Linked DNA regions of Homo sapiens. The main gene of each other region encodes a partner of the protein of the gene in region 3 in a complex. Each region holds a gene or a part of one and is shown on either strand. Other genes may lie near its edges. The genes, in order: DCAF1, CCNA2 and SAMHD1.

Region 1 (10,544 bases), on a different chromosome or scaffold from region 3:
CTCAAATTGCTGGGCTCAAGCAATCCTCTCCACTTGGCCTTCCAAAGTGCTAGGATTGTAGACATGAGCCACCATGCCTGGCCTAAAACACTAAAATTTTAGAGTTCAACTTAGAAACATATACATATATACTTCTGGTATCATTTTCAGAACTTCCAACTAATCTATGCCTGAAGATAATTATAACTTTGGGAATAACCATTTGCCCAAGGAAAATATAAACCTTAGTGAGACCTTGTCTCTATTATTTAAAAAAATAAAAAATAGGCCAGGCGTGGTGGCTCACGCCTGTAATCCCTGCACTTTGGGAGGCCAATGCGGGTGTATCATCTGAGGTCAGGAGCTCGAGACCAGCCTGGCCAACATGATGAAACCCTGTCTCTACTAAAAATACAAAAAATTAGCCGGACGTGGCAGCAGGCGCCTGCAATCCCAGCCACTCGGGAGGCTGAGGCAGGAGAATCGCTTGAACCCGGGAGGCAGAAGTTGCAGTGAGCCGAGATTGCACCACTGCACTCCAGCCTGGGCGACAAGAGCAAAACTCCATCTCAAAAAAAATATTAAGAATAATAAAGAATAAAAAAATATAAAGGCAAGGCGTGGTGGCTCACACTTGTAATCCCAGCACTTTGGAAGGCTGAGGTAGGAGGATCACTTGAGCCCAGGGGTTTGAGACCAGCCTGGGTAACAGTAAGACCTTGTCTTTATTATTTAAATACATAAATAAAGGAAAATATAAACTTGTAACAGACTAAATAAAGGAAAATATAAACTTGTAACAGACTTAACTAATAATAGCAATGTGAATTAACATAGTATCAATGAAAGCAGTCAGCAACTGAGTGTGGTGGCTCACACCTGTAATCCCAGCACTTTGGAAAACCTAGGTGGGCAGATCGCTTGAGCCCAGGAGTTTGAGACCAGCCTGGACAACATGGTGAAATCCTGCCTCTATGAAAAAAATTTAAAAATCAGTAGTAGTAGTACTTACTTCAATGTTCGTTTTTTTGTGTTTGTTTTTTGTTTTGTGAGACGGAATCTCGCTCTGCTGCCCAGGCGGGAGTGCAGGGACACAATCTTGGCTCACTGCAACCTGTAGTCCCAGCTACCTGGGGAGGCTGAAGCAAGAGAACTGCTTGAGCCTAGGAGGTGGAGGCTGCAGTGAGCCATAACTGCACCACTGTACTCCAGCCAGAGCAAAAGTGCGAGACCTTGTCTCAAGGAAAAAAAAAAAAGGCCGGGCACAGTGGCTCACACCTGTAATCTCAGCACTTTAGGAGGCCAAGGCAGGCAGATCACCTGAGGTTGGGAGTTCGAGACCAGCCTGACTAATATGGAGAAACCCTGTCTCTACTAAAAATACAAAATTAGGCCGGGCGCAGTGGCTCACGCCTGTAATCCCAGCACCTTGGGAGGCCGAGGCCGGCAGATCACAAGGTCAGGAGTTCGAGACCACCTGGCCAACATGGTGAAACCGCATCTCTACTAAAAATACCAACAAAATTAGCCAGGCATGGTGGCACACGCCTGTAATCCCAGCTGCTCCGGAGGCTGAGGCAGCAGAATCGCTTGAACCCAGGAGACAGAGGTTGCAGTGAGCCGAGATCGCGCCACTGCACTCCAGCTTGCACAACAAGAGCAAAGAAAACAGTCATCTTCACCTTGTTATGCCCAAGACAATAAGGGTGCATTACTCAAGTTCTTAAGTGAGTTCCTTTAAGTGCTATGAAGAAATGATGGTCTGTCCAATGGTGACACGGTAGTTACCAATTAGTGAATATCTAGTATGGGACAGACATTGAGCTAAGTAATTTACCATACTTACATTATTCTGAATTTTCACAACCATCCTACCCTTTTTCACACATGAGGAAACTAGCTCAGAGAGGTCCCCAAGACCAGCTAGTACTAGGTAGAAAAAAGGTTTCAAGGATTCAAATCCCAACTCTGCTGACATACCTGTGAAGTCTTGGTTATTTAACTTCTCCAAATCTCAATTTCCTTATCTGCAAGATGGAAACAGTTGTTGTGCGGGGTTAAATGACAATATTGTCCCCATGATGGGATAATATAAAGCCTCAAGAAATACTTATGTAAAATTTTCTTATCCTAACAAGCATCTGCTAGGGTATTTAGGGATGACAGGCCTGCAACTTATTTTCAAATGATTCCACAAAATATATATATAGATACCACACACACAAATAGAGAAAATATGGCATAATATTAACAACTGTTTGCCAGGCACTATGGCTCATGCCTGTAATCCTAGCACTTTGGGAGACTGAAGTGGGTGGATTACTTGAGGCCAAAAGTTCAAGACCAGCCTGGCCAACGCGGCAAATCCCCATCTCTACAAAAAATAAAAAAATTAGCCAGGCGTGGGGGCACACACCTGTAATCCCAGCTACTCCAGAGGCTGAGGCATGAGAATCGCTTGAACCTGGGAGGCAGAGGTTACAGTGGGCAAAGATCGCACCACTGCACTCCAGGCTAGGTGACACAGGAAGACTGTCTCAAAAAAAATAAAAATAGGCGGGCACGGTGGCTCACGCCTGTAATCCCAGCACTTTGGGAGGCCTAGGCGGTGGATCACGAGGTCAGGAGTTCATGACCAGCCGGACCAACATGGTGAAACCCCGTGTCTACTAAAAATACAAAAATTAGCTGGGCATGGTGGCACGCGCCTGTAGTCCCAGTTACTCGGGAGGCTGAGGCAGGAGAATCGCTTGAACCCGGGAGGTGGAGGTTGCAGTGAGCCGAGATTGCACCACTGCACTCCAGCCTGGGCAACAGAGCAAGACTCCGTCTCAAAAAAAAGAAAAAAAAATTTTTTTTAAATTGACAGGCACAGTGGCTCAAGCCTGTAATCCCAGCAATTTGGGAAGCCAAGTCGGAAGGATTGCTTGAGGTCAGCTGGGCAACATTTTGAGACACAGTCGACACAAATATTTAAAAATTAGCCAATCATGTTAGCCTGTGACTGCGGTCCTAGTTACTCAAGAGGCTGAGGCAGCAGGCTCCTTTGAGCCCAGGAGTTGTTGGAGGCTGCAATGAGTTATGATGACACTCGAGACCATCATGGCTAACACGGTGAAACCCTGTGTCTACTAAAAATACAAAAAATTAGCCGGGCGTGGTGGCAGGCACCAGTAATCCTAGCTACTTGGGAGGCTGAGGCACGAGAATGGCGTGAACCTGGGAGGCGGAGCTTGCAGTGAGCTGAGATCGCGCCACTGCACTCCAGCCTGGGCAACACAGTGAGACTCTGTCTCAAAAAAAAAAAAAAAAAAAAAAAAAAAAAAAAGCCAGCGCAGTGGCTTACATCTGTAATCCCAGCACTTTGGGAGGCCGAGGTGGGCAGATCACGAGGACAAGAGCTTGAGACCAGCCTGGCCAATATGCTGAAACCCCATCTCTACTATAAATACAAAAATTATCCGGGCGTGGTGGCGCGTGCCTGTAGTCCCAGCTACTCCGGAGGCTGAGGCAGGAGAATCACTTGAACCTGGGAGGCGGAGGTTGCAGTGAGACAAGATCGCGCCACTGCACTCTAGCTGGGGCAACAGAATGAGACGCTGTCTCAAAAAAAAAGAAAAAAGAAAAAAAAAAAAAAAAGAGTTATCACACCACTGCACTCCAGCCTAGGCTACAGGGCAAGATCCTGTATCTAAAAAAACAGGCCAGGTGTAGTGGCTCATGTCTGTAATTCCAACACTTCGGGAGGCTGACCAGGGAGGATCACTTGAGTTCAAAACCAGCCTGGGCAACATACTGAGACCACTGTCTCTATAAAAAATAAATGAATAAAAATAAAAAATTTTAAAACTGTATAATAGGCAGAACAGTAAAACACTGTACTCAGCAACTACGCAAGAGATACTAAGTACAAAATGATTTCCCTACATTCCCCAAATTCTCTATTATCTCTTTAACATCCAAAAATATATACCCACTCAAAAATGGGTAATGAATAAATGTTATATAGAAAACCCAAATGGTCACATCATTAAGAAAAATACTAAATAGATCCTAAAATCTAAATATACACATTTACATAAACATTAAAGGTAAACTCCAGTAAGCTGGAAAAAGAAAATGCAGGATGATATTACCAATTAACCTCTCATTCTGTACATTAACGATGCATTTTGAACAGGAAGATGCTACTAATATAAAAAATTAAGACATGTAAACTAATTAAAAGGCTTCATCAAAAAAACAGGGTAAGGAAAAACCAAGACCAACATGACATGGCCAAGGACGAGTCATTTGTGACTCAAAAATAGCTAAATACAAACACTCCAAAACTATTTCCTCAACAAATGGAAAACCAGAGCGCTGCCACCGCAGTAAGAGGAAACCAGACAGAAAACCGTCTAAGAAGTGAAGTTGTTAAGCAAACGCTTCTGACACCCCAGTTGAAAACTACTATAACCCCCGGAAATAGACTCCAGGGAAGCTTCGCGGGCACTCTGAGGTTTGACTCCAGGCTGCGGGACCCGCACACCTCTCTTTCCAACCCTTCCCTCTTTCATGGGGATGGGAGGAGCGCCCGGAAAGCTCCGCCCCCGTCGCACGGTCCAAGAGGCAGGCGGGTGCAGGGAGAGGTGGCACGAGGCCGAGAGACGGGAGAGCCCGCCCAGGTGACTGGAGCTGGAGGCGGAGACACAGTCCGGGAAGGGGCCCGCCGTATAGTACGGAAGATGGAGCCCCGCAAGCCCGTACGGAACAGAGACTAGGAGGATTGGAAGGAAAAAGAAAACAAGGGAAATGAAATGCGCCCCTCCTCCAGGTAGGGGCGGACACACCCCGCCCCCCCACTCCGGGCGGAAGAGTTACTCTCGGGAAGCTTCTCGTGGGGAGTGGAGGAAGAACGTGGAGGCCCCGCCCCCAGGACAAGAATCAGGAGGAGGAAAAGTCCTGTCAGGCCCCGGGCCCAGCCTCCCGGCAGACCGGCCCGCCCCCTCCTCGCCGGCGGCCCAAGCAGGTGCCGCCCCTCCCCCAAGCCCGGCGCCCACTCTGCCGCCCGGCCAGCCGCGCGACCTGCTTCCTCGCGCCCCTCCCGTAGAGTCGCCTCCCTCCATTTCCCACTCACCGTCCGAGGCGGCTCCGCCGCTGCCCCCCCCCGACCCCGCCAGTGGCCACAGTTCACACACACACAGCCTCAGGTCCCGCACTCACTCTCCACTCACACACACACACAGCGCGACCACGGCTCCACAGCGGCCCACATATTATGCGTCACTCGCGCGCTACGTGCACCGCGCGCGCGCGCTCGCGCCTACTTGGCGCGAGGACCGCGAGCAAGGGGCGGGAAGAGAACGCCTGCACGATCGGGGAAAAAAAAAAAAAAAAAAAAAAAAAAAAAAAAAAAATCGAAGAGCCCCGGGGACGCCTGGGAAATGAAGTTCCGCGTCTAGGGGCGGGCCCACCAGTCCCAATTGACGCATGAGCTCTTCGCCTGGCGCATTGACTTCTGGATTTGTAGTTTTTTTGGATAAATGCGAACTGCTGAGTACTCATTGGCTGCTTCGGAAGGCGGAAGTGAAAAGTGAGGGAGCCAATCCTTCTAAGACAGTACTGTAATCGCCTGATACTTTTTCAGTGTCTTGTTCTGACCTGTGTGCGCAAAGAGCCTCTGTTTTATTTGGCCATTTGCCTTATCTTACCTAGAACATACCGTGATCTAAGAAAATATTTCTCATAAACATATCAGAAATCACAGCACTCATTAAATCAGAAGGCACTGGTTGTTTTTTGTTTGTTTTGTTTTGTTTTTTTGAGACAGAGTCTCGCTCTGTTGCCCAGGCTGGAGTGCAGTGACGATCTCAGCTCACTATGACCTCCGCCTCCCGGGCTCAAACAGTCCTCCCACCTCAGCCTCCAGCTGAGACTACAGGCGCATGCCACCACACCCAGCCAATTTTTGTTTCTGTTTTGTATGTGCGTGTTTGGTAGAGACATGGTTTTGCCGTGTTGGCCAGGCTGTTCTCGAACTCCTGGGCTGAGTTCTCCCAGCCTCTTTTTTCTCTGTCTTTTTTTTTTTTTTTTTTTGACAGGGTCTCGCTCTGTCATCCACGCTGGAGTGCAGTGGCGCGATCACAGCTCACTACAGCCTCAATCAACCTCCTGGGCTCAAGCTATCTTCTCACCTCAGCCTCCCAAGTAGCCGGGGCTACAGGTGTGCACCACCACACCCGGCTAATTTTTAAAAATTTTTGTAGAGACGAAGTCCCACTGTGTTGTCCAGGTTGGTCTTGAATTTCTAGGCTCAAACGATTCTCCTGCCTCGGCCCCCCGAAGTGTTGGGATTACAGGCATGAGCCACTGCACCCAGCCTCTGTCTTTTTGTTCAAGACCTAGCCTGTAAGAATCAATAGATACTTATTGCCAGGTTATTATACGTGAGGCAGAGAAGTGAAAAATCAAAAGCTCATAGATTAAGGCAGGACTGACCTCACAGGTCACTTAATTCAATTTCTTCATGTTGTTGGGAAAAATGAGGCCCAGAGGGAGTGAGCGACTTGCCCAGCATCACACAACCAATTAACAGCAGAACCAGAGGACTCCTTACTCTGACCAGCAGTCCCTCTTGTGGGGCATAGAAGATAAACATGACCCACAGTTGAGCAGAATCTCGACCTGACAAGATCCTACCCAGCGTTCAAGGCCTTATGCAGCTCATTATCTCTCCGGGAATGCTGAGCAAGTCTCCGTGCATCTCCATGAGTCTTCACGGCAATACTGTCACATGAATACAAGACACAGCAAGCCTGCTGCTATGCTCAGGCTCGACAGCTAGTAAGGATCCTGAATCCTGGGTCCCTTGGTTTCATTCCCCACTAGATCCCATTTCCCTCTTTCCAGAAAAGGGACCATCCTCCTTCTCTTAAATGTGTAACTTGGAGCTACTGCTCCAAGCAGAGATTCTCTAATATGTGCTGGGAGCGCCACAGACATGTCACCTTTCTTCACTTCTTTCTCCTGCCACAACACACAGGTCCCTTCTCTGTGCTTCTGGAACTCTACCTCTGTCAGTAATGGCCAGTACCATTTCTTTCAACTTCAGAGCATGCTGGGCCCTGAGCCAAGTGTTCCAGCCACACTCTCTCATTTAACCCTCACTACCCTGCCACACACACAGGGAAGATATGGTTAATCACCTTTACAGATGAGAAATCTGGACCCAGAGAGGTAGAACAAGGAATGGAACCCACATGCCATTCCTCCAGCACTCCTTCAGGTGACTTTCCTGCCATGCCTCCCTGGGCCATGAACCTAAAATGTATGAGGATGGGACATTTAAGCCTTGGATATCTCCCCTCTGACTATGGTCTAGCCGGCCCAGTGGTGACTTCTCCGCTGGCTGGGGTCCTAAGAGGCAGAGCCCTTAGGGGAGCTCAAGGCTTAGCTCACGCGCTCCTGGCACTGCCTCAGTCTGCCACCAGATGGCACTGCTTCATTTCAGAAACCCAACCTGGTCAGAGCACTGTGGCTCATGCCTGTAATCCCAGCACTTTGAGGGGCTGAGAATCTCTTGATCCCAGGAGTTCAAGACCAACCTGGGCAACATAGAGAGACACCCCCACCCTCACCCTTGCTCCACTGTCTCTACAAAATATCTTAAAAATTTGCCGGACGTGGTGGTGCATGCCTGTAGTCCCAGCTATTTATGAGGCTGAGGTGGGAGGATTGCTTGAGCTTGGGAGGTTGAGGCTACAGTGAGCTGTCATTGTGCCACTGCACTCCAGCCTGGGTGACAGAGAGAGACTCTGTCTCAAAAAAAAATTTTTTTTTAATTTTTTTAAAAAACAAACCCAGCCTGGGGCCCTGGGTTGGTGATGGGAGCAAGAAGCATTAAGAAGGGGCTTTGGAGAAGCCAGGGCCTAGGAGGCAGGGGAAGCAGGGGAGGAGACAAACAAGGCCTCTCCAGCAGCCACGCCCTCAGGAATCTGCACTCTTAACTCCTGCAGCCTCCTCTACCCCTGCCAACACCTCCCCCTCCCCAACATGCACATAGCCACACACCTGCAGACACCTTCAAACACCTCCTTCCCACTTCTGGGAAAAAGAAGAGGGAGCACCCAGGCTTTCCCAACTGCACACGCATTCCAAGTGTGCTTGGTGGCATATTTCACAGATACCCACATGTGCCAGATATACAAGCATGCACACTGTGCATTAGGCACCCAGTCCTCACAACAAATACTTTCACATCTAAGCATATGCACACACAAAGCTACAGACAATCCAGGCCCACACACCTGGCTTGGTTGTGGCACATGGGTCCTGCACCATTGGGAGGAGATTTATTGACCTCTTTGGTAGGACATCTCTGGACTCCGTCTCACCTTGCTCTGCCTGTTCCACCCCCTGCTCCATGGTGTGCCCAAGAAAGAGGAAGCCCCATCTGAAAGAGTGAGGAGTGCTTTGGGGGCTGCCCAGCAGCAGAGAAAAGGTAAGAAGAGCCCAGCCCTGGCCCCAGGACCAAGGCCTACAGATTAGCATGCTCTACCTACTCCCACCTCCAAGCACACCCACTCCCTGGGTAGGAAGATGGACAGCACCAAGTCCTCTAGGCTTCAAGCTTCTCCTTCATTCTCCTCCTTCTCCCGCTCCCATCCTTCTATGAGCTTTTCACTCCCAGCACCTCCTTCTAGGCTTACCCAGGTGCTCCCACAAGCCCATCCTCACCCTGGTGCCACCCCACAACTCCTGCGCTTCCTCCAGCAATTCCCTTCCCTGGGGCTGGGAAGTGAGGTCAGCTGTCCCATATCCACCCCTGCTCTCCTGTTGGCTAGACAAGACTGCTACTGCAAGTGTCCAGCAGTGTCGCAGGAGCCACCAATTAGAGGCTTAAGGCTACCAGGCTTTGGGAACACCAGCCTGGACAAAGAGGAAATCCCAATCATTCACTGGGTACCCTACTCCTGCCTGGTGGCCCCTGTACCCCACCCCCAGAAAATGAGGAGAGGGAACGCCACATCATTTCCCAAAGGGTGTGTAATTATGTCTGATTACATCCACATCCACTACTCTCACTTTACAGAGAAAGAAACAAATTCCACAAAGTCAACAACTTAAGTGCCCACATCGATCAGTGGGCACAGATAAAGAGGAGATAAAAAAGCAAGCATACCTAGCCTCTTTTGCCTCAGGTTCCTGGGGTTGGAAATCCTTCCAGGAGGAAGAGTGGAGTCAACATTGGGGAGAGAGTCTGTATTGGCCTTGGCTCCAAGCTCTCAGAAGCCCCTGAACATTTTTTTTTTTTTTTTTTTGAGATGGAGTCTGGCTCTGTCGCCCAGGCTGGAGTGCAGTGGCACAATCTCAGCTCACCGCAAGCTCCGCCTCCTGGTTCAGGCCATTCTCCTTCCTCAGCATCCTGAGTAGCTGGGACTACAGGCGCCCGCCACCACGCCTGGCTAATTTTTTATATTTTTAGTAAAGACGGGGTTTCACTGTGTTAACCAGGATGGTCTCGATCTCCTGACCCCGTGATCCGCCCGCCTCTGCCTCCCAAAATGCTGGGATTACAGGCGTGAGCCACCGCGCCTGGCAACCCCTGAACTTTTATTTATTTATTTATTTTGAGATGGAGCCTCACTCTGTCCCCAGGCTGGAGTGCAGTGAAGCAATCTCGTCTCACTGCAACCTCTGCATCCTGGGTTCAAGTAATTCTCCTGCCTCAGCCTCCTGAGTAGGTGGGATTACAGGTGCCCGCCACAACACCTGGCTAATCTTTGTATTTTTAGTAGAGATGGGGTTTCACCATGTTGGCCAGGCTGGTCTCGAACTCCTGACCTCAAGTGATCCACCCACCTTGGCCTCTCAAAGTGCTGGGATGACAGGTGTGAACCACCATGCTTTGGCCACTCCTGGATTTTTAGAAAGACCATTCTACAGGATTCAGGGAATAGACCATTCTACAGGATTCAGGGATCTCTGGCCTGACCCATTTGAAGGTACTCTGGAGACTGCTGGGGCAGACCCTCATGATGACTCAGGTCAGAAAGAGTTTACCACTCTATCAGTTATTTCATTTCAAGAAGGCCTGGGCCTGGCACGGTGGCTCACACCTGTAATTCCAGCACTTAGGGAGGCTGAGGCAGGTGGATCATTGAGCCTAGGAGTTCAAGACCAACCTGGGCAACATAGTGAGACTCTATCAGTATAAAAAATAATAAAAATAAAAATAATTCTTACAGCCAGGCGTGGTAGCTCACGCCATAATCCCAGCACTTTAGGGGGGCAAGGCAGGTGGATCACCTGAGGTCGAGAGTTCGAGACCAGCCTGGCCAGCATGACAAAACCCCATCTCTACTAAAAAATTACAAAAATTAGCCAGGTGTGGTGGTGCATGCCTGTAATCCCAGCTACTCAGGAGCCTGAGGCATGAGAATTGCTTGAACCCAGGAGGCGTAGGTTGCAGTGAGCCGAGATCACACCACTGCACTCCAGCCTAGGCAACAGAGTGAGATTCTGTCTCAAAAAATAATAATAATAAAAATAAAATTAATAATAATTTTTTAAATTAAAAAAAG
Region 2 (11,254 bases), on a different chromosome or scaffold from region 3:
ACACACTTTAAAGCTAATCCACCCAAAGCTGGAGTACCAGTTGCTTTTGGCTAAGAAAGTGCAGTTAATTGATGCTTTAAAAGTAAGTACATGTGTCGTCGTGGACTGGTGATTATTATTTGAAGTCATAGGATTTCTAAAATTATCAATACTTTAACATTACATTGGATTGAATTTTGAATATTAAGGTGCTTCTGTTTTTCATTTTAAATAGGAATTACAGATTCATGAGGGAAATACGAACTTTCTGATACCAGAATATCACTGTATTCTAGAAGAGGCAGATCACCTACAGGAAGAATACAAAAAGCAACCTGCACATCTTGAAAGACTCTATGGTTAGTGGACCATTCTAGAATACCTTGCCATATTTCTTTTCAACTGGCTATTTCCCAAGGATCATGTAAGAGAAGCTGGGCAGAAAGATAAAAAGATTACATCAGTCATGATTCATGAACCAGTCATGAATCAGTTGACAACAAATTTATTGCACAGAATATTTCTGTATTTTGTCAAGCTACTTTTAATATTTAATTCTTTTACTTGATAAAATGCAAGTATATTAAGAAATAAGTATACTGTGATGAATTAATCTATATATATGAACAAACCTGGTATAAAATGAATGTAATCTATGAACCTTTAGAGCTTAGACTGTATTTCACACAAATAATTGTCATGTTTTGTTGCTATTGTGAATTATAAAAATGCAGCATTTAAAATTTTTAAGGCAAAATTTAATAAAGGATATACAGTATTTGTGTTGTGTCAATTTATAGTTCAAAACTTTGGTGGTGAGAAGCTGAATGTTTCACAAATTGTATTGAAACAGAGTAAGGGAGGTGAGGAGAGGGAAAGAAGGAGTGAGGAAGGAAGAAACAGCTTAAGAAAAACAATTTTGTTAGCAATCTTTACATAAGACCTGTTGTATATAGCACACTATTTACACTGTCTTCATAATCAGGTGAGATATTTAATCCTTACAATAGCTCTGCAAGGTAGGTGGTATTATCTTCATTTTTCATATGCTTTAACTGAAATCTGAGTCTAAGGAATTTGTTGTCACCTAGCAAGTTAGTGATCATGCCTGCATTAGAATCTTCTCACCCCAAAATGCATGCCTTTTACACTATGCCAAGCCTTCCATAGTCACTGTAGAGCCAATTGGTATCACTAGTACACATGGATCCTTAAGCCTGCCTACTGAATTTTTTATTACATATCCAGAGACTTTCTCACAAACTGTAGCTATATTTAATGTCTTAACCTTTATTACATGACAAGCACATGATCTCTTTTATCCTTATAATAACTTATGAGATTGGCTGTACATAATATCACTGATTGCAAAATCCAGACAGCTTTGTAAACCAAAGTTTTTTTCATAAATAATTTGACAGCAAAATCTTGACTTAATCTGAATTAATTTAATAACAAAATCTGACTTAAACTGACATGAGGTTTTATATATATTTTTTGTTTGTTTGTTTGTTTGTTTTTTGAGACAGAGTCTCGCTTGGTCTCCCAGGCTGGAGTCAGTGGCGCGATCTCGGCTTACTGCAGCCTCTGCCCCCTGGGTTCAAGCAATTCTCCTGCCTCAGCCTCCTGAGTAGCTGCGATTACAGGTGTGCGCCACCATGCCCAGCTAATTTTTTTGTACTTTTAGTAGAGACAGGGTTTCACCATATTGGCCAGGCTGGTCTCCAACCCCTGACTTCGTGATCTGCCCACCTCAGCCTCCCAAAGTGCTGGGATTACAGGCATGAGCCACCGTGCCCAGCCCAAGGTTATATCTTTTTTATTCCACTTAGTGCAAATATTCATCCGTATATTTTGTGCCAGAAATAGTACTATGTTTTGCTATTGGATGCTGCTACTCAGTCCCCTTGGGGTTAATACCATAGTATATTCCTTTCATTATCTTCCTAAAATAGGAAAAATTCTGAAATACATCTTGCATCAAGCTTTTTGGATAAAGGATTGACAGCTTGAATTATTCCTGTTTTACATATGAGAAAACTCAAGGTGAAATGATTTGCCCAGATCTTTGAACCTAGGACTATTTGCCTTCAAGTCAAATCCCAAGAATGGTCAACATATAGGTGGAATATTTTAATTCAGATAAGCTGTTAAAAATAGAATCTGCCTAGACTATGTCAAAATGGTCAGCTTGGTGGAAAAAATATACCACTTGTTGTGATGTTATATATACTGATAGCAGTTCAAAAATGGCCAGTAGTTGATTGTCTGAATTAATAGCTTGTAATCAATTGTTAAGAGGGTTATTAGGCAGATGATTTATATCTTGAAACTTGTTTTAAAATCCCCCCAAAATGACTATTTTTAAAAACATGGCTTTTAGGTTTGTGTATGTTAAATCATGGAATTACAGGTGCTTAAAAATAGATTATCAAGCAATTACTTTAGTGAAATACTGTGTCATTAAATATAACTAATCACTGACAGGAAATTTATGTTTTTTCTTTAAAGGCATGATCACTGATCTTTTCATAGATAAATTTAAGTTTAAAGGCACCAATGTAAAAACTAAAGTACCCCTTCTATTGGAAATTCTGGACAGTTATGACCAAAATGCATTGATTTCATTCTTCGATGCAGCATGACATACAAATAAGGTAAAGTCCCAAAGAAGTGGTCTGTTTAAATGAAAAATGTTAAAAGAGAATTAGAAGTTAACTGTGTATGTACTTTAATTTCAAATGCTTTTTTATATCTAAAAATATTTGAGATATAATGGCTTTTTAAAGTAATGCTTCTATTTCTTTTGACAAATTGAACTTTCTAAAACTAAAAGAGTCTTTTTATTTTTAAAACACAAGTAGAATGATTTAAATAGGATTTTAATGAATTTTTGGCAAGTGGCTGTTTTAATTTTTAAATTGAGAAGTAATATGTGGAAAATTAAAATATATTCAAATGTATTACAAGGTACATAAACACATAAACATGTAGACCGCTTTATAGGCTTCAAAATGTATTTTTATATATTACCTTATTTGATCTTCACAACTGTTGTAAAATTTGTCAAATCATATAAGAAAACTGATTCTCAGTGAAATTTTGTGATTAAGAGGACATGCTAATATTTTGTAAAGCTGGGACCAGAACCCAAGTACTGGTACTTGCTTTGTGTCCTGGTTACTATGTATGTTGCCAGCTAGTGGAAATAACCTACCAATTGTTTTTTCTAGGAGATAGGATTGATTTGCAACTGATATTCCTTTTGCTTGGTAGTGTTTTATGACTCTGCTGCAGTTTGTGGAAATGCTGGACTTGGCTCAGTGCTATAAATTGTAGCCAGGAAATAAGAAGAGCTTACACAGAGTCGGGGGATCTTAATTAGACATGCTGTAACCAGTGGAGCTATTCAGCGTGCTTCAAGTGAAGAGTGCAGAAATAGTGATGCCATCTTAGATTTTCCTACACTAGTATCTTCTAGATCTCTTTTTATCATATATGACATTAAGGCTACAGAAGTTTTGTGCATTAATCTTAATTCATATTTATTAATTTCAAGGGAATATTGAAAGGTTTTAAAATGGCATACAGATAATGGAAAATAAGCTTTATGTTTCAAGAAGGGCAGACTCACGAATTTTTTAGAAAACAGTGCTTCTTAATGATATGCTATTATACTTATTAGTTATGTGCAAGCTTTGTATATTCTTATATTTATATATAAATATAAAAATTTGTTAAAGGCACGTATAGTTAAGAGAGTTTTATTTTAATAAGGTCATATTGTTTTTACTATGTTTAAAAAACTTTACTTCTGAAAGGAACATAATTATATCTAGGTCACTAGAACGTCATTGTGTTTTTTGTTGGTTGCCACAGCTTGGGGAAAAATAGAAAAAAATTAATGACTGTATTTGAATATTTTGTAATGCACTGCTATTTATTATATATATCAACAGTAGTTCAAGGTGCCATCTTAAATTAATTGCATCTTCATTAGGAAAAATAAAAAGCATAAAACACAATTTCTGGTTACTATGAATAAACGCCTAAATGTTAAGATGACATTACAGTCTTGACACTTGAGTACTGTATTACTATGTGAGCTCCGTGTTAAATAATTTATGCACATTATTTAATCCTAACAACCATATGACTGTAGTTATTAGTCCCTATTAACACATAAGAAAACGGAGAATCGGAGATACTGAAAAACGTGCCCCAGATTTTAGACCTTTGGAAAAAGTCACTTAAGCTAACTAGACGTCCCAGAGCTAAAGGCTGGGCAACCCAAATGATAGTCGCCAAAGTTTAATTCCGTTTAATTCCCTAAAAGGCTTAGAGTCAGCCTTCGGACAGCCTCGCTCACTAGGTGGCTCAGCTTAAAATAATCGGAAGCGTCGGGCCCTAAATCCTACCTCTCCCCGCCCCGCGCAGGCGTTTTCTCCCGCCCCAGCCAGTTTGTTTCTCCCTCCTGCCCCGCCCCTGCTCAGTTTCCTTTGGTTTACCCTTCACTCGCCTGCGACCCTGTCGCCTTGAATGACGTCAAGGCCGCGAGCGCTTTCATTGGTCCATTTCAATAGTCGCGGGATACTTGAACTGCAAGAACAGCCGCCGCTCCGGCGGGCTGCTCGCTGCATCTCTGGGCGTCTTTGGCTCGCCACGCTGGGCAGTGCCTGCCTGCGCCTTTCGCAACCTCCTCGGCCCTGCGTGGTCTCGAGCTGGGTGAGCGAGCGGGCGGGCTGGTAGGCTGGCCTGGGCTGCGACCGGCGGCTACGACTATTCTTTGGCCGGGTCGGTGCGAGTGGTCGGCTGGGCAGAGTGCACGCTGCTTGGCGCCGCAGGCTGATCCCGCCGTCCACTCCCGGGAGCAGTGATGTTGGGCAACTCTGCGCCGGGGCCTGCGACCCGCGAGGCGGGCTCGGCGCTGCTAGCATTGCAGCAGACGGCGCTCCAAGAGGACCAGGAGAATATCAACCCGGAAAAGGCAGCGCCCGTCCAACAACCGCGGACCCGGGCCGCGCTGGCGGTACTGAAGTCCGGGAACCCGCGGGGTCTAGCGCAGCAGCAGAGGCCGAAGACGAGACGGGTAAAGGGATGCGGGATATCTGCAGGAGGGTGGGTCGAGCAGGGTTTGGCATTGGCTTAGCAGGCAGAGAAGAGTGGCGAGAAGGCATGTCCTGGGCTTTTGGAAGGGGGCCAGGGTCTGGAGTGCAGTTGGTGCTGGTGTGTGGTTTGCCACAGTAGGAGTTCTCCCATATTAGCATCAGGACCCCGCCAACACTGTGTGTATGCTGCCGGTCTGCTCTCTATAGGGGGCATCTGCCTGTACATAATGGGGTCAAACCAAGCTCTAAAACGTGTAGTCTTCGCTCAGCTCCGCGCCTTTCTCTCCACTTTTAAACCCCAGGCACTGCTGTAGGACTCTGACCCCTATCCTCCTCACGCTTAAGAGATGACCTCTACTTTAGAAAAGCGTGTACAAAATACTTTGCTTTTGGCAAATTCCGCCATTTTAGCCGGATTTGCTCTGTTGCTCCACCCTCGGGCGACAGTGGTGAACCAACAATTTTTTTGCTGTCTTTCCTAAACTTGTCACGTATTGGCCTGTCACCCGACCCTTCTTGTGGCCCTGATAAGTTTTGCATAATTCCACCTAGTGTTATCTATTGATAGCCTTTGTGGGAATGCCTGTGACAAATGGGAACATCCCTTCTCTTTTGAATACTGAAACTCTTCTTTGTCCCAGAAAGTTTAATTCCTGATAGAGTATTTGGGAGAAAAAGCAAAGGCCAACACCCATAAGAGAAAGAATGCAAGACTAGTAGGCTCAAAGCCAGTTATTAATTTTTTTTTAGGTTGCACCCCTTAAGGATCTTCCTGTAAATGATGAGCATGTCACCGTTCCTCCTTGGAAAGCAAACAGTAAACAGCCTGCGTTCACCATTCATGTGGATGAAGCAGAAAAAGAAGCTCAGAAGAAGCCAGCTGAATCTCAAAAAATAGAGCGTGAAGATGCCCTGGCTTTTAATTCAGCCATTAGTTTACCTGGACCCAGAAAACCATTGGTCCCTCTTGATTATCCAATGGATGGTAGTTTTGGTAAGTTTTAAGGAAAATCTGTGTGGAATTACGGTAATTATAATTATTAGATGATATTAATGATTTGCATTTTAAGATGTCTTATGTAGTCATTTTGACTATAGTGAGTTAGGTTTAATGTAACAAGGCTTAGAAAGGATGTGACTTATCTCAGATCTCACAGCTAACACTTGACTTGGTGACATACAAAAAGATCCTTATCCAGTGCTCTTTCAGGTTCACTGCCAGTCACATCAATCTAATTATAATTAGATCTTAAATGCTTATTTTAATCTGATCCCATAAATGTGTTCTTGGTTGGGAGAATAGATTTCAGTTTTATTTAACTCACTTATATATCACTTAGTGCTATTTGAAGATGCAGTCTTAAATATTGTGATTACATAACGTCTCTTCCAGTTTTATAATTTTGTTTCTATAAAACCAGTCTGGATTAGCATCTGATACCAGAAAGTGACACTTTTCCTCCTACAAGTAAATAGTTGTACCATGGCTGTTTACTCTTACCCATGTATTAAAGTAGCTTCTGTAAACAGCTCTTTGCAGTTTGTACTATTTCTTTGCCCTAGGGATATTGAGTCACTGGACAGCTCACTAAATCCAATCTCATTTTAGTTTTAGTTGTATTGATTGTGAGGAAGGAGGGGTGAGCAGGAAAAGTCCTTTGGAAATAATAATTTGTGTGTTTTTATCAAAATTTTGCAGAAAATGTTTAATCTCAAGGTGATCTTTGAAGTGAAAGGAATAATGGATGATACTCTTTGCTTCAAAATAATTTATACTACAAAAAATAAATTATTTATAGTGTTAATCCATTTGCCCATAACAAACCTAATTTCTTAATAACACTTGTTAATAGAGGCCATTTAACTGATGCTAGCTATTGCCTACTTGTGCTTTATATATGTCAGACTCTGGGATCTGCAGTTTCTCTTGGGACAAATCTTAGATATTATCTCAAAACTTGGATTTTAAAAGTGTTCTGTCCTAACAGAACCACCATGCCATTTGCTCCTTTCTGTTGTGGAAGATGGATACTTTAAGATAATACCTGATTCTCATTTTCCTGTTAGGGGCCTACCAATATGTTTTTTTTTTTTTCCCTCATTAACTAAAATCATTCCAAAGTTCTATGTACAGAGATACTGAGACTAGGGTAAAATATTCTACATATTTTGTCATGAGAAGCTCTTTTTAGTTTGAAGAAATAAGTGCTTTGTTAATATGAGATTCCTTCCATGGCAGTCATTTTTAGCTATTAAACTAAATAGGCAAACAATTAATTTAATCATATCTTTTGAATTGTCCCAGAGTCACCACATACTATGGACATGTCAATTATATTAGAAGATGAAAAGCCAGTGAGTGTTAATGAAGTACCAGACTACCATGAGGATATTCACACATACCTTAGGGAAATGGAGGTAAAGGTTCTCTGAATCCAGTTTGTATAATGTATTTGTTAAATGTGGCTAAATGAAATTGAGAGGATAATGTTTAAATTTTTAAACTAATGAATTATTCTAATGCTACAGTTAAGTTTATAGCATGTAGCCTCTCGTAATTAATGGTAAAATAATCTAATTGCAGTTTTTACACTAGAATAATTTTAACACTATAAATAATTTTCTCAATAGGTTAAATGTAAACCTAAAGTGGGTTACATGAAGAAACAGCCAGACATCACTAACAGTATGAGAGCTATCCTCGTGGACTGGTTAGTTGAAGTAGGAGAAGAATATAAACTACAGAATGAGACCCTGCATTTGGCTGTGAACTACATTGATAGGTTCCTGTCTTCCATGTCAGTGCTGAGAGGAAAACTTCAGCTTGTGGGCACTGCTGCTATGCTGTTAGCCTCGTAAGTCTACCTTGGTTTGTTTAAAAGTGATCACGACCTTTTGTCTAGGGAAGAAATTGATTTTTTTAATGGTGACCTTTTAACATACACCAGGCAGAGTCAGTGACTACTTTAGGGATGGCAATGTGCTGGGGCTTAGGGCAGTGGAGGAGGATGAAACTGTTCTAATCTAGAACACTAATTTTCCCCCAACTGGATTCCTTGAACATGATATAGTACACTAGGTTACAAATTTTAAAACATTTTCCTTCCAATATTACTTTCTGGCATATAAGCAGTGTCTCTTTTATTAAGAAGTAAAGGCTGGGTGCGGTGGCTCGCGCCTGTAATCCCAGCACTTTGGGAGGCCGAGGTGGGCGGATCACTTGAGGTCAGGAGTTTGAGACCAGCCTGGCCATCATGGCGAAACCCTGTCTCTACTAAAAATACAAAAATTAGCTGGGCATGGTGATGCATGCCTGTAATCTCAGCTACTAGGGAGGCTGAGGCAAGAGAATCGCTTGAACCCAGGAGGTGGAAGTTGCAGCGAGCTAAGATTGCACCACTGCACTCTGGCCTGGGCGACAGAGCAAGACTCTTGTCTCAAAAAAAAAAAAAAAAAAGAAAGAAAAACTAAATTTAAAAATGAAAACATGAAACATGTTTTCCTAAGACTTGTATTTCCTAAATTTTCAGCTACTTGGTGAACTCTGGCATTGTTCCCATCTCGAGAAGTCTCATGCCTTTCATTTACTTCCTTTGACTGAACTGGGGAAAATATCTCAAAAGTCCTTTATTGATTTGGGCCTTTTAATTAGCAATTAGCTATCCAGTCTCTACTAGAAATGATGATCAAGTGTCTGGAAATGCAGTTGGTGTGGATTTTGGATTCATTCCATATTCTGCTAATGGGATTTCAGAACTGGGATAAGGAAGCTTGCTTCTCTTTTAGGACTGATTACTTAAAACTTTTTTCATTGTAGAAAGTTTGAAGAAATATACCCCCCAGAAGTAGCAGAGTTTGTGTACATTACAGATGATACCTACACCAAGAAACAAGTTCTGAGAATGGAGCATCTAGTTTTGAAAGTCCTTACTTTTGACTTAGCTGCTCCAACAGTAAATCAGTTTCTTACCCAATACTTTCTGCATCAGCAGCCTGCAAACTGCAAAGTTGAAAGTTTAGCAATGGTGAGTTAACTTTCATTTTGTTGAATGGTGATTCTTTGGTAATAATTAGGGGTAAGCCCTAATTCCTTTGTAAAGGAACCTAGTTCCTTTGTACAGCAGTGGTGAAGAGATTTAGTATTCAGAGGGAGATTAATGCTGCAGTATGGAAGAAAGCCTACTGCTGGCAAAAGATAATCTATATCAGGAAAGCACTAGAAGCAGAGGTCTAAGGATGACATCTTGGGGATGGGTAGTCAGAAGAGTTGTTTTTTAAAAGTTAATAAAGGAGGGAAAATACAGGATGAGGATGGAACAAAACACTAAAATGATTGATATGTTTAAAGATGAGGCTGTGAGATATTTTTTCTAGAGTTGCTACAGAGCCGTTATCAAAGGCAGGAAAAAATTAGGTTAGAAGGCAGAGGTTTGACATTTGAATTCTAAACGCTCTTGTGATCATAAAGTATTTTTTATTCCAGTTTTTGGGAGAATTAAGTTTGATAGATGCTGACCCATACCTCAAGTATTTGCCATCAGTTATTGCTGGAGCTGCCTTTCATTTAGCACTCTACACAGTCACGGGACAAAGCTGGGTATGTATTACGGTCTTCACACACCTATCTTGTGACTGAAATGCCTGTGCCAGATTAAATAATAATTGTCCTACAAAACTGAGGGTTGCCTAGATGTTCTTACTTGGAAAAACTTCAAATATATATAGTTGACCTTTGAAAAACACAGGTTTGAACTGTGTGAGTCCACTTACACATGGATTTTTTTCCAATCAAATGTGGACTGAAACTACAGTATTCAGGGGATTCACAACCCATATATATGGAAGGGTGACTGCAGGACTTGAATATGTACAGATTTGGGTATATTTGGGAAGGGTCCTGGAACCAATCCCTCATGTACACTGAGGGATGATTATATACTGTTTAAGGCATGTTACCTGTTGAACAGTGTTTGTTAGGTAGTAAGCTTAGTTGTAACTTGGATTGAAAGGTGAGCTTTTTTAAAAGCATCTGACCTGTTGCTGGCAGGGAAAGTAGTAGAAAATGGATCGAGGGATGGAATAATGGCCTGAGAAAACTAGTAGTTGGAAAAGTTAAAGATTAGTACTGGAATTTAACATAAGCTTAATGCCAACTATTTACTGTGTTTGGTGTGTTACTAAAAGCAAAACTCAGGGGTTCTCTATTCCCTTCTCTGTAGCCTGAATCATTAATACGAAAGACTGGATATACCCTGGAAAGTCTTAAGCCTTGTCTCATGGACCTTCACCAGACCTACCTCAAAGCACCACAGCATGCACAACAGTCAATAAGAGAAAAGTACAAAAATTCAAAGTAAGAATTAACTTGGATATTGAAGCTTACTTTTCTAGATTATGGTTCAGAGATCTTTGACATTTTAACCTTATTCATGAATCTGCCATAGCCTCCTTGAGAAGCTGTTCTCTAAATTGGTTATGTGTTTGAAGAAGGTTGTAGTTCATGCTTTCTGCCCTGGGTCTGGGGGAGAAGAGAGAAGGAAGGGGGCATGCATGTGTGTTTCAGGGACCAGACAGTGTTTCTAAAACCATCAAGTCGGTCAGACAGAAATAGCATTTTTTAGTTCCCAATACATGAGTACAAACATTATTCCATGATCTCCTTTACCCAGTGAGTGTTTACTAAAAATGCTTTTTTTTTCCCTACTTACAGGTATCATGGTGTTTCTCTCCTCAACCCACCAGAGACACTAAATCTGTAACAATGAAAGACTGCCTTTGTTTTCTAAGATGTAAATCACTCAAAGTATATGGTGTACAGTTTTTAACTTAGGTTTTAATTTTACAATCATTTCTGAATACAGAAGTTGTGGCCAAGTACAAATTATGGTATCTATTACTTTTTAAATGGTTTTAATTTGTATATCTTTTGTATATGTATCTGTCTTAGATATTTGGCTAATTTTAAGTGGTTTTGTTAAAGTATTAATGATGCCAGCTGTCAGGATAATAAATTGATTTGGAAAACTTTGCAAGTCAAATTTAACTTCTTCAGGATTTTGCTTAGTAAAGAAGTTTACTTGGTTTACTATATAATGGGAAGTGAAAAGCCTTCCTCTAAAATTAAAGTAGGTTTAGGAAAACAGACCCTCAAATTCTGACATTCATTT
Region 3 (10,654 bases):
ACTAGATATCTCTGAATTACAAAACAACAACAATAACAACAACAAAAACTCTTACCGAAGAATTAACATACAAATAGGAGAAGGTATTCCAAGTAATCTGCTCATGACAAAGGATAGGTAAAAAATAGGAATGAAGATATACTTCCTCAACACAAATGTGAAAACGAACATGAAAAGTTAATCAATTTAAGGCTATTTTAGAGACATGGAAGAAGTAACTTGACTCACACCCAGTGTTTGATAACTCCTTATGGATCTTTGAGTCACGGAGAGACCTGGCTGTACAGTTTTCTGCTATGGTTCTGACTGGGTCAGGAAGAGGTAAAATTCCTGTTGGTTTTACCATTTGGTACTAATTTTGATAAATATTTGAAAGGATACAAATAGACATTAATCTTAATCCTTAAAGTTAACTTTTGTCATTAATCTCAGAATTTAAATATTCATGTCCTACCTCCCATTCTCCTGATGAGAATGGTGTGTAAGTGACTACCTGTGCCGAGGTCCTGAGTGATCTCAGCACTGCCGCTTCACGTCTGGCCTAAGCCAGCTCTTCTTCCCTTCATCTGCCCCTTTATCCACTTCCCTCCATCTGCCCCTTTATCCACTTCCCTCCTTTTCCTCCAACTAAATTAACTTTATGCTAGATTTTTTTTCTTTAAGGAAACCATTTTCAATTTAATCACTTAATATTCACTTGAACTCATCTAGAAATGTCTAGTTGAGCCTAGTATGATACTCTAGCCAAGTATCAAGGAAAATTTTATAGGGAAATGACAATCAAGTTTCTTACATTGTATCAATAATGTTGCCAACTTTGTGTTGATAAGCTCTACGGTGTAAAGAGTTGCGAGTGTGGAACATGTCATACAGATTTCCAACTTCCTGCAGGAAAACATGAAGTAAATATTAATAGGATCAGATTATGTTAACGTTATTAGAGACAAGTATATAGGACAAGGAAGGAAAAGGGATAGTGGCAGACAAGAGGGCTATGCACCGGGGCTTCTTCATTAACACCTTTGACCCCACTAAAAAATGAGGAGGCAGATTAGTAAAGCCATTTATTGGCTTGCAACTTTCATTTTTTTTTTTTTTTTTTTTTTTTTTAAAAGATGAGGTCTTGCTATGTTGCTCAGGCTGGTCTTAAGTGATCTTCCTACCTCAGCCTTGCTGGGATAACATGCATCAGCCACTGTACCCAGCTAACTTTCATTCTTTGTTTTTTTTTTTTTTTTTTTTTTTTTTGAGATGGAGTCTCGATCTGTTGCCCAGGCTGGAGTACAAGTCCTTCATTGCAAGAACTTTCATTCTTTTTCTTTTCTTTCTTCCTTTTTTTTTTTTTTTGAGATGGAGTCTCGCTCTGTTGCCCAGGCTGGAGTGCAGTGGCGCCATCTCGGCTCACTGCAAGCTTTGCCTCCTGGGTTCATGCCATTCTCCCGCCTCAGTCTCCCGAGTGGCTGGGACTACAGGCGCCTGCCACCAAGCCCGGCTAATTTTTTTGTATTTTTAGTAGAGATGGAGTTTCACTGTGTTAGCCAGGATGGTCTCAATCTCCTGACCTCATGATCTGCCCGCCTCGGCCTCCCATAGTGCTGGGATTACAGGCGTGAGCCACTGTGCCCGGCCAAGAACTTTCATTCTTAATAAACTAGGCCAGGTGCGATGGCTCATGCCTGTAACCCCAGCACTTTGGGAGGCCGAGGTGGGCAGATCACCTGAGGTCAGGAGTTCAAGACCAGCCTGGCCAACATGGTGAAACCCTGTCTCTACAAAAATACAAAAATTAGCCGGGCATGATGGCGGGTGCCTGTAATCCCAGCTACTAGGGAGGCTGAGGTGGGAGAATCACTTGAACCCAGGAGGCGGAGGTTGCAGTGAGCGGAGATCACGCCATTGCACTCCAGTCTGGGTGACAGAGCAAGACTCCAACTCAAAGAAAAAAAAAAAAAACCCTAAAATCTATCACATGCTCAAACTCTGTGACAGTTTCCGTTTTAGGCATCTTAAATTAAATATATATATATTTTAATCCTCCCAATAACTCTAGGAAATAGGTATTACTATTCTTATGTTCTTCATTCTTGACTTTTTTTTTTTTTTTTAGACAGTCTCGCTCTGTCACCCAGGTTGGAATGCAGTGGCACACAATCTTGGCTCACTGCAACCTCCACCTCCCAGGTTCAACCGATTCTCGTACCTCATCCTCCTGAGTAGCTGGGATTACAGGTGTATGCTACCACGCCTGGCTAATTTTTGTATTTTCAGTAGAGACAGGGTTTCACTATGTTGGCCAGGATGGTCTCAAACTCGGTAGCCCAAGAGATTTGCCCACCTCAGCCTTGCGAAGTAGTGGGATTACAGATATGTACCACCACGCCTAGCCCTTCTTGACTTTCTATAGTATAGTACTATACTACTTTTTGATTACATGACTGCCATCTAACAGGGACCTAGTGATTTCAGCTGTTTAACTACAGTTGACCTTTAACAACACATGTTTGAACTGTGAGAGTTCACTTATACAGATTTCCTTGCCCCGCTGCCACCCCTGAGACAGTAAGACCAATCCCTCCTGTTCCTGAGCCTACTTAATGTGAAGACGATGAGGATGAAGACCTTTATGATGATCTACTTCCACTTAATGAATAGTAAATATACTTTCTCTGCCTTATGAATTTCTTTCTTTCTTTTTTTTTTTGAGGTGGAGCCTTGCTCTGCCGCCCAGGCTGGAGTGCAGTGGCGCAATCTCGGCTTACCACAGCCTCCGCCTCCCGGGTTCAAGTTATTTTTCTGCCTCAGCCTCCCAAGTAGCTGGGATTACAGGCACTCGCCACTGCGCCCAGCTAATTTTTGTATTTTGAGTAGAGACGGAGTTTCACCATGTTGCCCAGGTTGGCCAGGCTGGTCTCGAACTTCTAACCTCAGGTGATCTGCCCACCTTGGCCTCCCAAAGTGCTGGGAATACAGGTGTGAGCCACCACGCCTGGCCTTGCCTTATGATTTTCTTAATAACATTTTCTTTTCTCTAGCTTACTTTATTGTAAGAATACAGTAGATGGGGCGTGGCGGCTCACACATGTAATACCAGCACTTTGGGAGGCCAAGGAGGACAAGTTGCTTGAGGTCAGAAGTTCGAGACCAGCCTGGGGAACATAGCGAAACCCTGTCTCTACAAAAAAAAAAATAGAAAAATTAGCCCGGTATAGTGGCATGCGCCTGTGGTCCCAGCTATTCGGGAAGCTGAAGTGGGAGATTTGCTTGAGCTGGGAAGGTGGAGGTTGCAGTGATCTGAGATCGCACCACTACACTCCAATCTGGGTGACAGAGTAAGATCCTGTATCCAAAAAGAAAAAAAAGAATATGGTATATGATACACGTAACATTCAAAATAGGCTGGATGCAGTGGCTCACACCTATAATCATAGCACTTTAGGAGACTGAGGTGGATGGGTTGCTTGAGCCCAGGAGTTTGAGACCAGCCTGGGCAACACAGTGAAACTCCACCTCTGTAAAATAAATTTCAGAATTAGCCAAGCATAGGCCTGTAGTCCCAGCTACTCGGGAGGCAGAGGAGGAAGGATCAGTTGAGCCCAGGAAGTCAAGGCTACAATGCACTATGATAGTGCCACTGTACTCCAGCCTGAGTAACACAGCAAGACCCTGTCTGGAAAGAAAACAAAAAACATACAAAATGTGTGTAACTGACCATTAAGGTTATCAATAAGGCTTCTGGTCAACAGAAGGCTATTTAGTTAAGTTTTTGGGAAGTCAAAAGTTATATGCAGGCCAGGTACAGTGGCTTACACCTATAATGCCAGCACTTTGGGAGGCTGAAGCGGGTGGATCACTTGAGGTGAGGAGTTCGAGACCAGCCTGGCCAACATGGTGAAACCCTGTTTCCACTAAAAAGACAAAAATTAGCTGGGCGTGGTAGCATGCATCTGTAAACCTAGCTAGTCACAAGGCTGAGGCAGAAAAATCACTTGAAGCCAGGAGGCAGAGCTTGCAGTGAGCCGAGATCATGCCACTGTACCCCAGCCTAGGCAACAGTGGGAGACTCCATCTCCAAAAAAAAAAAAAGGTAAAGAAAAGTTTTATACAGATTTTCAACTAGGAGAGGGGACAGCACCCCTAAACACCATTTTGTTCAGGTGTCAACTGTATAAAATTTTTCAACACTAATACAGTGATTAAAAATGAGACTCTGGGCCAGGCACCTTGGCTCATGCCTGTAATCCCAGCACTTTGGGAGGCCGAGGCGGGCAGATCACGAGGTCAAGAGATTGAGACCATCCTGGCTAACACGGTGAAACCCTGTCTCTACTAAAAATACAAAAAAAATTAGCCGGGCATAGTGGCGAGTGCCTGTAGTCCCAGCTACTAGGGAGGCTGAGGCAGGAGAATGGCGTGAACCCGGGAGGCGGAGCTTGCAGTGAGCCGAGATCGTGCCACTGCACTCCAGCCTGGGTGACTGAGCGAGACTCCGTCTCAAAAAAAAAAAGAGAGAGACTCTGGAACCAAACTTTTTGGGTTGAAATTCCAACTCTACCACTTGTTAATTATATGCCTTCTCTGTGCCTTAATTTGCTTGCCTGTTGAATGGAATAATAGTATCTATCTCACAGGGTTATACGGAATGAGTTGATCCGTCCAAAGCACTTAAAATGATGCCTCATACAAGCCAGGCATGATAGTGTGCACCTGTAGTCCCAGCTACTTGGGAGGCTGAGGAGGGAGGATCACTTGAGCTCAGGAGTTCAAGACTAGCCTGGGCAACACAGTGAGATCCTATTTCAAAAAAAAAAAATGCAACCAACCAAACAAAAAAACCCCAAAACCAGTGTCTAACTCAAAACTTAATAAATGTCCATGTTAATTTTATTATTATTTAATAATGCAGTAGAAGGGAAGAGACTAAAGATATTTACAAATCCTAGGAATTAAGTAAAGAGACTGACGATTTACCAATTATTCCAAATTGTTAAATGGTTATTTCCAAATTTCAGACCAGGAACAACATTCTTCTTATTGCCTCCTCTGGCACAGCTTACCTTATCTCTAGCACAAATACGCAACTCATTGTCTACTTCACAGACACGGGCAAACTTAATAAAGCGCTTGTAATCAAAATTATTTTGGATTCCAAGATGATGGCAGTCCCTAGAAGGATTCCAAAACAGAGAGATGAAATTTTTCAACAAGGAAGCTGTACCTTAAATAGTAATACTAAATTTATATAAATATTTTAGCCAACTTTTCAGAAGTGTTCAGTGCATACCTGGCAAAATAATCCCATTTGTCCACATCAATGCCATTTCTTTTATTAGATACTATCTCATAAAGGAAGCTTTTGTTTTCAGGACGCCCTTTATATGGCCACTGGAAGGCAAGAAAACCCACTGGAAGTTTTAGGATAGGCACCAAATCTATTTATAAACAAAGCAAAGCAATTTTATTAATCTGTAAAATATAAACAGATACCTGACTGGGAATATGAGATAAACTAGAAGGTTCTATTCTTTCTTTCTTCCACTTCATTTCAAAACTAGTAGAAAGGGAAAAGAAATGCTAAGGTATATGATACCCTATTGTTACCACATTTTCTTGTGCCACTGAAAAGATCTGAACTCTATTACATTTCCCAAAACCAACAACTTTTGTGTTTTCTTGGTTTATAAGTTTTTGAAAAATATAAAATCTAGGCCAGGCATGGTGGCTCACGCCTGTAATCTCATCACTTTGGGAGGCCGAGGAGGGCGGATCACGAGGTCTGGAGTTTGAAACCAGCTTGGCCAAGATGGTGAAACCCTGTCTCTACTAAAAACACAAAATTAGTTGGGCATGGTAGCAAGTGCCTGTACTCCCAGCTACTCAGGAGGCTGAGGCAGGAGAATCGCCTGAACTCAGGAGGCGGAGGTTGCAGTGACCTGAGGTTGTGCCACTGCCCTCTAGCCTGGGCAACAGAGCAAGACACCGTCTCAAAAATAAATAAATAAATAATATAAAATCTAATAATAAACTAACAATGCTTGAATTCATGCATTAAAACAGTACTATCTTTCAAAGTAGCTACATACCTAGTCTAAATAATATGCATTGTTGAATGTATTCTTTGAGCTCCACTTTTTTGGAAATAGGATATTTGCTACAAAACTCATCTGTTTATCTTATACTGTAAGTACACTTGTATATATTTGAGGAAACAGCCCTAAAAATCTCAGGGGGAAATTATTTCCCAACTTTATTTTTAATTAAAAAAATACAAAAGATCAAAAAGGAAACAAAACAGATTTTCCATTGAACTGGTTCAACTTTTTTGTAGATCTTCCTATAAATATTTCAAATATGATTTTTTTTTAAATTTGTAGACAGGATCTAGCTCTGTTGCCCAGGCTGGAGTGCAGTTGCACAATCACAGATCACTGCAGCCTGCCTCAGCCTCCCAAGCATCTGAGACTACAGGCATGAGACAGGGTTTCAGTATTACCCAGGCTGATCTCAAACTCCTGGGCTCAAGTGATCCTCCCATCATGGCCTCCCAAAGTGCTGGGATTACAGGCATGAGTCACTGAGCCTGGCCAAATATGTTCATTTTAATGGTTAAATAAAACATACACATTTACATTCCAAACAAAGTTACTTTAGGCTTCTATATAAAATACTGCAGGCCAGGTATGGTGGCTCACGCCTGCAATCCCAGTATTTTGGGAGGCCAAAGTGGGAGAATCACTTGAGCCCAGGAGTTCGAAACCAGCTTAGGCAACATAGTGAGACCACATCTCCAAAAAAAAAAATTTTTTTTAATGAATAAAATACTGCATATATATTCACTAAAAAAGAATTTATGGCCGGGCGCGGTGGCGGCTCACGCTTGTAATCCCACCACTTTGGGAGGCTGAGGCGGGTGGATCACCTGAGGTCAGGAGTTTGAGACCAGCCTGGGCAACATGGTGAAACCCCGTCTCTACTAAAAATACAAAGATTTGCCGGGCGTGGTGGCACACACCTGTAATCCCAGCTACTCAGGAGGCTGAAGCAGAAGAATTGCTTGAGCCTGGGAGACAGAGGTTGCACTGCGCTGAGATCATGCCACTGTACTCCAGCCTGGCCAACACAGTAAGACTCTATCTCAAAAAAAAAAAAAAAAAAAAAAAGAAAGAAAGAAAGAAAAGAAAAGAATTTATGCCAAGCACAGTGGCTCACACCTGTAATCCCAGCACTTTCAGAGGCAGAGCTGGGCAGATCACTTGAGCTCAGGATTTCAAGACTAACCTGGGCAACGTGACAAAACCCCATCTCTACAAAAAATACAAAAATTAGCTGGGCATGGTAGTGCACGTTTGTGGTCCCAGCTACTCAGGAGGCTGAGGTAGGAGGATCGCTTGAGCCTGGGAGGTGGAAGTTGCAGTGAGCTGAGATTGTGCCACTGCACTCCAGCCTGTGTGACAGAGTAAGACCCTGTCTCTAAAAAGAATTTCTGTATATATATTTTTGGGAAGTAACTTCTAACTAATTCAGTTGAGAGGTAGAAAAAAATATAAGCCTTTTATTTTTTGCATTAAACAGTAGAAACATAGAACTCATATTTTATCATTTAGCCTCTAAAATAGCCAAATGTATAACTCAGAAGGAATCATGAAAAGGCTAGATGAAAAGCACCAGTCAGTTAAAATTAAGCTGTACATAAACTTACCAATGAATCTTCGACAGGTGATTCAAGTGGTCCTACAATTTGTTCCTTTATAAAGCAAATATCTTCTTCAGGGATGAGACCATATTGTTCCATGACAGGCTTAATTCCATTAGAATTAATAAGGTGCTCAAACATCATAACTGAGCCTTGTTCATGCTAGGAAAAGTAAGCACAATATGATGTGTTAAAGATTCTAGCCCATTGGGAGCCCTGACTAACAAAATTATCCTCAATTCCAAGTAATTCTGAGATAAAGGTCTATTGCATATTAATTCTCTAGTTTCTAACCACAATCTTAGGAACATTTTTAAAAACCTGTCAGATTTTTCATTTTACTAGTAGTCTACAAACCTTTTACAAAACTTATTTCATAAACATATTTAATGCATTTAATGATATAATCATTTACAGTTCCTAAATGAATATTATAAGATCATGTAGACAGAATTACATTTTAATAAATATCATCATAAAATTGAATTTTATTTTTTCATCAGCCTTTGAACACGTGCAGTTATAAGCTCTGTTAGGCACTACCATCTAGTGGTGAAAAGGGGTAACTGCAAACTTGCCAGTAAAAACAAAGATCTCCCTTGAAATCTCCAATTGGCCTGTTTGCTCATCTCTCTCTGCTCACTCATTCACAATCAATGTAAAGGATCAAATGAACTCCTGAAGACATCTGCCCTTTCCTAGATCCTACCAAAAACTAACTCAAGATGAAAAACAAAACCTGAATTATCCTATAACTATATTTTTTTAAAAAAAGAGACAGGGAATTGCTCTGTTGCCCTGGCTAGAGTCCAGTGATGTGATCATGGGGTCACTGTAGTCTTGAACTCCTGGGCTCAAGTGATCCTCCCACTTCAGCCTCCCGAGTAGCTGAAACCACAGGTGCACACCACCCTACCCAGCTAATTTTTAGATTTTTTTGTAGAGGCAGGGTCTTGATTTGTTGACCAGGTTGGTCTTGAACTCCTAGGCTCAAATAATCCTCCTGTCTCAGCCTCCCAAAGTGGCAGGATTACAAGCAACTTGCCCTATAACTATTCTTTCCCCGCCCCCGCAGAAACAATTCTTGCTCCAGAAACTATTCTTAAAAACAGAATCAGGGCTGTCAGGCCTGGGTGCGGTGGCTCACACCTGTAATCCCAGCGTTTTGGGAGGCCGAGGTGGGCGGATCACTTGAGGTCAACAGTACAAGTTTGGCCAACATGGCAAAACCTCCTGTCTACTAAAAAATACAAAAATTAGCCAGGCATGGTAGGGTGCACCTATAATCCCAGCTACTTGGGGGACTGAGGCAGGACAATCACTTGAACCCAGGAGGTGGAGGTTGCAGTGAGCCGAGATCGCCCTGCACTCCAGCCTGGGTGGGCAACAAAGTGACACTCTGTTTCAAAAGAAAAAAAAAAAAACCCACAAAAACAGAATCAGGCTGGGTGCAGTGGCTCACATTTGTAATCCTAGCATTTTTTTGAGAGGCAAAGGTGGGAGGATTGCTTGAGCCCAGGAGTTCGAGAGCAGCCTGGGCAACAAAGCAAGACCCTGTCTCTACAAAAAGATAAAAAGATTGGCTGGGTATAGTGACATGCGCCTGTGGTCCCAGCTACTTGGGAGACCAAGGTGGGAGGATTGCTTGAGCCCAGGTGGTTGAGGCTGCAGTTAGCTATGTTCATGCCTGTACTCCAGCCTGGGCAACAGAGCAAGACCTTGTCTCCAAAAAACAACAACAACAACAAACAAATTGGCCGGGCACAGTAGCTCACGCCTGTAATCCCAGCACTTTAGGAGGCGGAGGCAGGCAGATCACGAGGTCAGGAGATCAAGATCATACTGGCCAACATGGTGACACCCCATCTCTACTAAAAATATAAAAATTAGCTGGGTGTGGTGGCATGCACCTGTAGTCCCAGCTACTCAGGAGGCTGAAGCAGGAGAAACGCTTGAACTCGGGAGGCGGAGGTTGCAGTGAGCCGAGATCACGCCACTGCACTACAGGCTGGGCGACACAGCGAGACTCTGTCTCAAAAAAAAAAAAAAAAAAAACGAATTGAATCAAGATATACGTAATTACAAAGAGGAAAAATAGTAACTTTATAATGGAGAGATTTGACAGACAATGCCTTAATCAAGTAAGCAGAATTAATATCATTGGTATTGGCTCAACTAGGATTTATGTGCCTCCTGAGATGATACACTATGAAGGATGCATCACTGATTTTTTTGGAGACAGAGTCTAGCTCTGTCACCTCCTGGGCTCCCGGGCTCAAGCAATTCTCCTTCCTCAGCCTCCCAAGTAGGCACGTGCCACCACACCCAGCTAATTTTTTGTGGTTGTTTTTTTTTTTTTTCCCTCTTGTTGCCCAGGCTGGAGTGAAATGGCGTGATCTTGGCTCACTGCAACCTCCGCCTCCCAGGTTCAGGTGATTCTCCTGCCTCAGCCTCCCGAGTAGCTGGGATTACAGGTGCCCACCACCATGCCCAGATAATTTTTATATTTTTAGTAGAGACAGGGTTTCGCCATATTGGCCAGGCTGGTCTCCAACTTCTGACCTCAGGTAATCCACCCACCTTGGCCTCCCAAAGTGCTGGGATTACAGATGTGAGCCACTGCGTCCGATCTGGACACATCACTTTTGTGGCATTCTACCAAAAATGCATAGCTTGAATCCATGAGGAAACATCACACTGAAACTCAAATTGAGGAACATTCCACAAAATAGCTCAGTTGCTCTTTAAAAAAATGACAAAGTCACTAACGATAAAGACTGAAGAATTGCTCCAGATCAAAAGAAACTAGAAAAATGGCAACTAAATGCAATGTGTAATTCTGGACCAGGGAAAAAAAGTTTTTTTCCCCTTTTTCTATATGGACAATTGGTAAAATTTGAAAGTCTGAATTAGATAAGAGTACTGCATCAACATTAATTTACTGATTTTGATAATTATACTATG

Evidence for each region.
Region 1: the proteins of SAMHD1 (region 3) and DCAF1 are in contact, whole or in part, in a crystal structure (PDB 4CC9), measured with the Homo sapiens proteins. Residues at the interface, in NP_056289.2 of Homo sapiens: Ser616, Arg617, Val618, Gln619, Lys622; in NP_001336097.1 of Homo sapiens: Asn1090, Glu1091, Asp1092, Thr1114, Gln1116, Asn1132.
Region 2: the proteins of SAMHD1 (region 3) and CCNA2 are in contact, whole or in part, in a cryo-EM structure (PDB 9HIW), measured with the Homo sapiens proteins. Residues at the interface, in NP_056289.2 of Homo sapiens: Lys615, Ser616, Arg617, Val618, Gln619, Leu620, Phe621, Lys622; in NP_001228.2 of Homo sapiens: Met210, Ile213, Leu214, Trp217, Glu220, Val221, Glu224, Arg250, Leu253, Gln254, Tyr280, Ile281, Thr282, Asp283, Asp284, Thr285.

What each region holds. Positions count from the first base shown.
Region 1 is NC_000003.12:51,494,775-51,505,318, forward strand, and holds the start of DCAF1 (DDB1- and CUL4-associated factor 1), read right to left. Parts: upstream 5,242-10,544; 5' UTR 5,099-5,241; intron 4,558-5,098; exon of another isoform or gene 4,116-4,557; intron 2,007-4,115; 5' UTR 1,960-2,006; intron 1-1,959. UniProt on the Homo sapiens protein: Acts both as a substrate recognition component of E3 ubiquitin-protein ligase complexes and as an atypical serine/threonine-protein kinase, playing key roles in various processes such as cell cycle, telomerase regulation and histone modification.
Region 2 is NC_000004.12:121,817,230-121,828,483, reverse strand, and holds the start of CCNA2 (cyclin-A2), read left to right. Parts: upstream 1-4,600; 5' UTR 4,601-4,855; coding exon 4,856-5,068; intron 5,069-5,837; coding exon 5,838-6,081; intron 6,082-7,392; coding exon 7,393-7,505; intron 7,506-7,718; coding exon 7,719-7,942; intron 7,943-8,904; coding exon 8,905-9,112; intron 9,113-9,570; coding exon 9,571-9,684; intron 9,685-10,306; coding exon 10,307-10,440; intron 10,441-10,797; coding exon 10,798-10,846; 3' UTR 10,847-11,254. Other genes in the region: BBSome complex member BBS7, read left to right, coding at 1-82, 215-338, 2,491-2,624. UniProt on the Homo sapiens protein: Cyclin which controls both the G1/S and the G2/M transition phases of the cell cycle. Functions through the formation of specific serine/threonine protein kinase holoenzyme complexes with the cyclin-dependent protein kinases CDK1 or CDK2.
Region 3 is NC_000020.11:36,911,668-36,922,321, forward strand, and holds part of SAMHD1 (deoxynucleoside triphosphate triphosphohydrolase SAMHD1), read right to left. Parts: intron 7,853-10,654; coding exon 7,697-7,852; intron 5,383-7,696; coding exon 5,282-5,382; intron 5,164-5,281; coding exon 5,055-5,163; intron 886-5,054; coding exon 794-885; intron 1-793.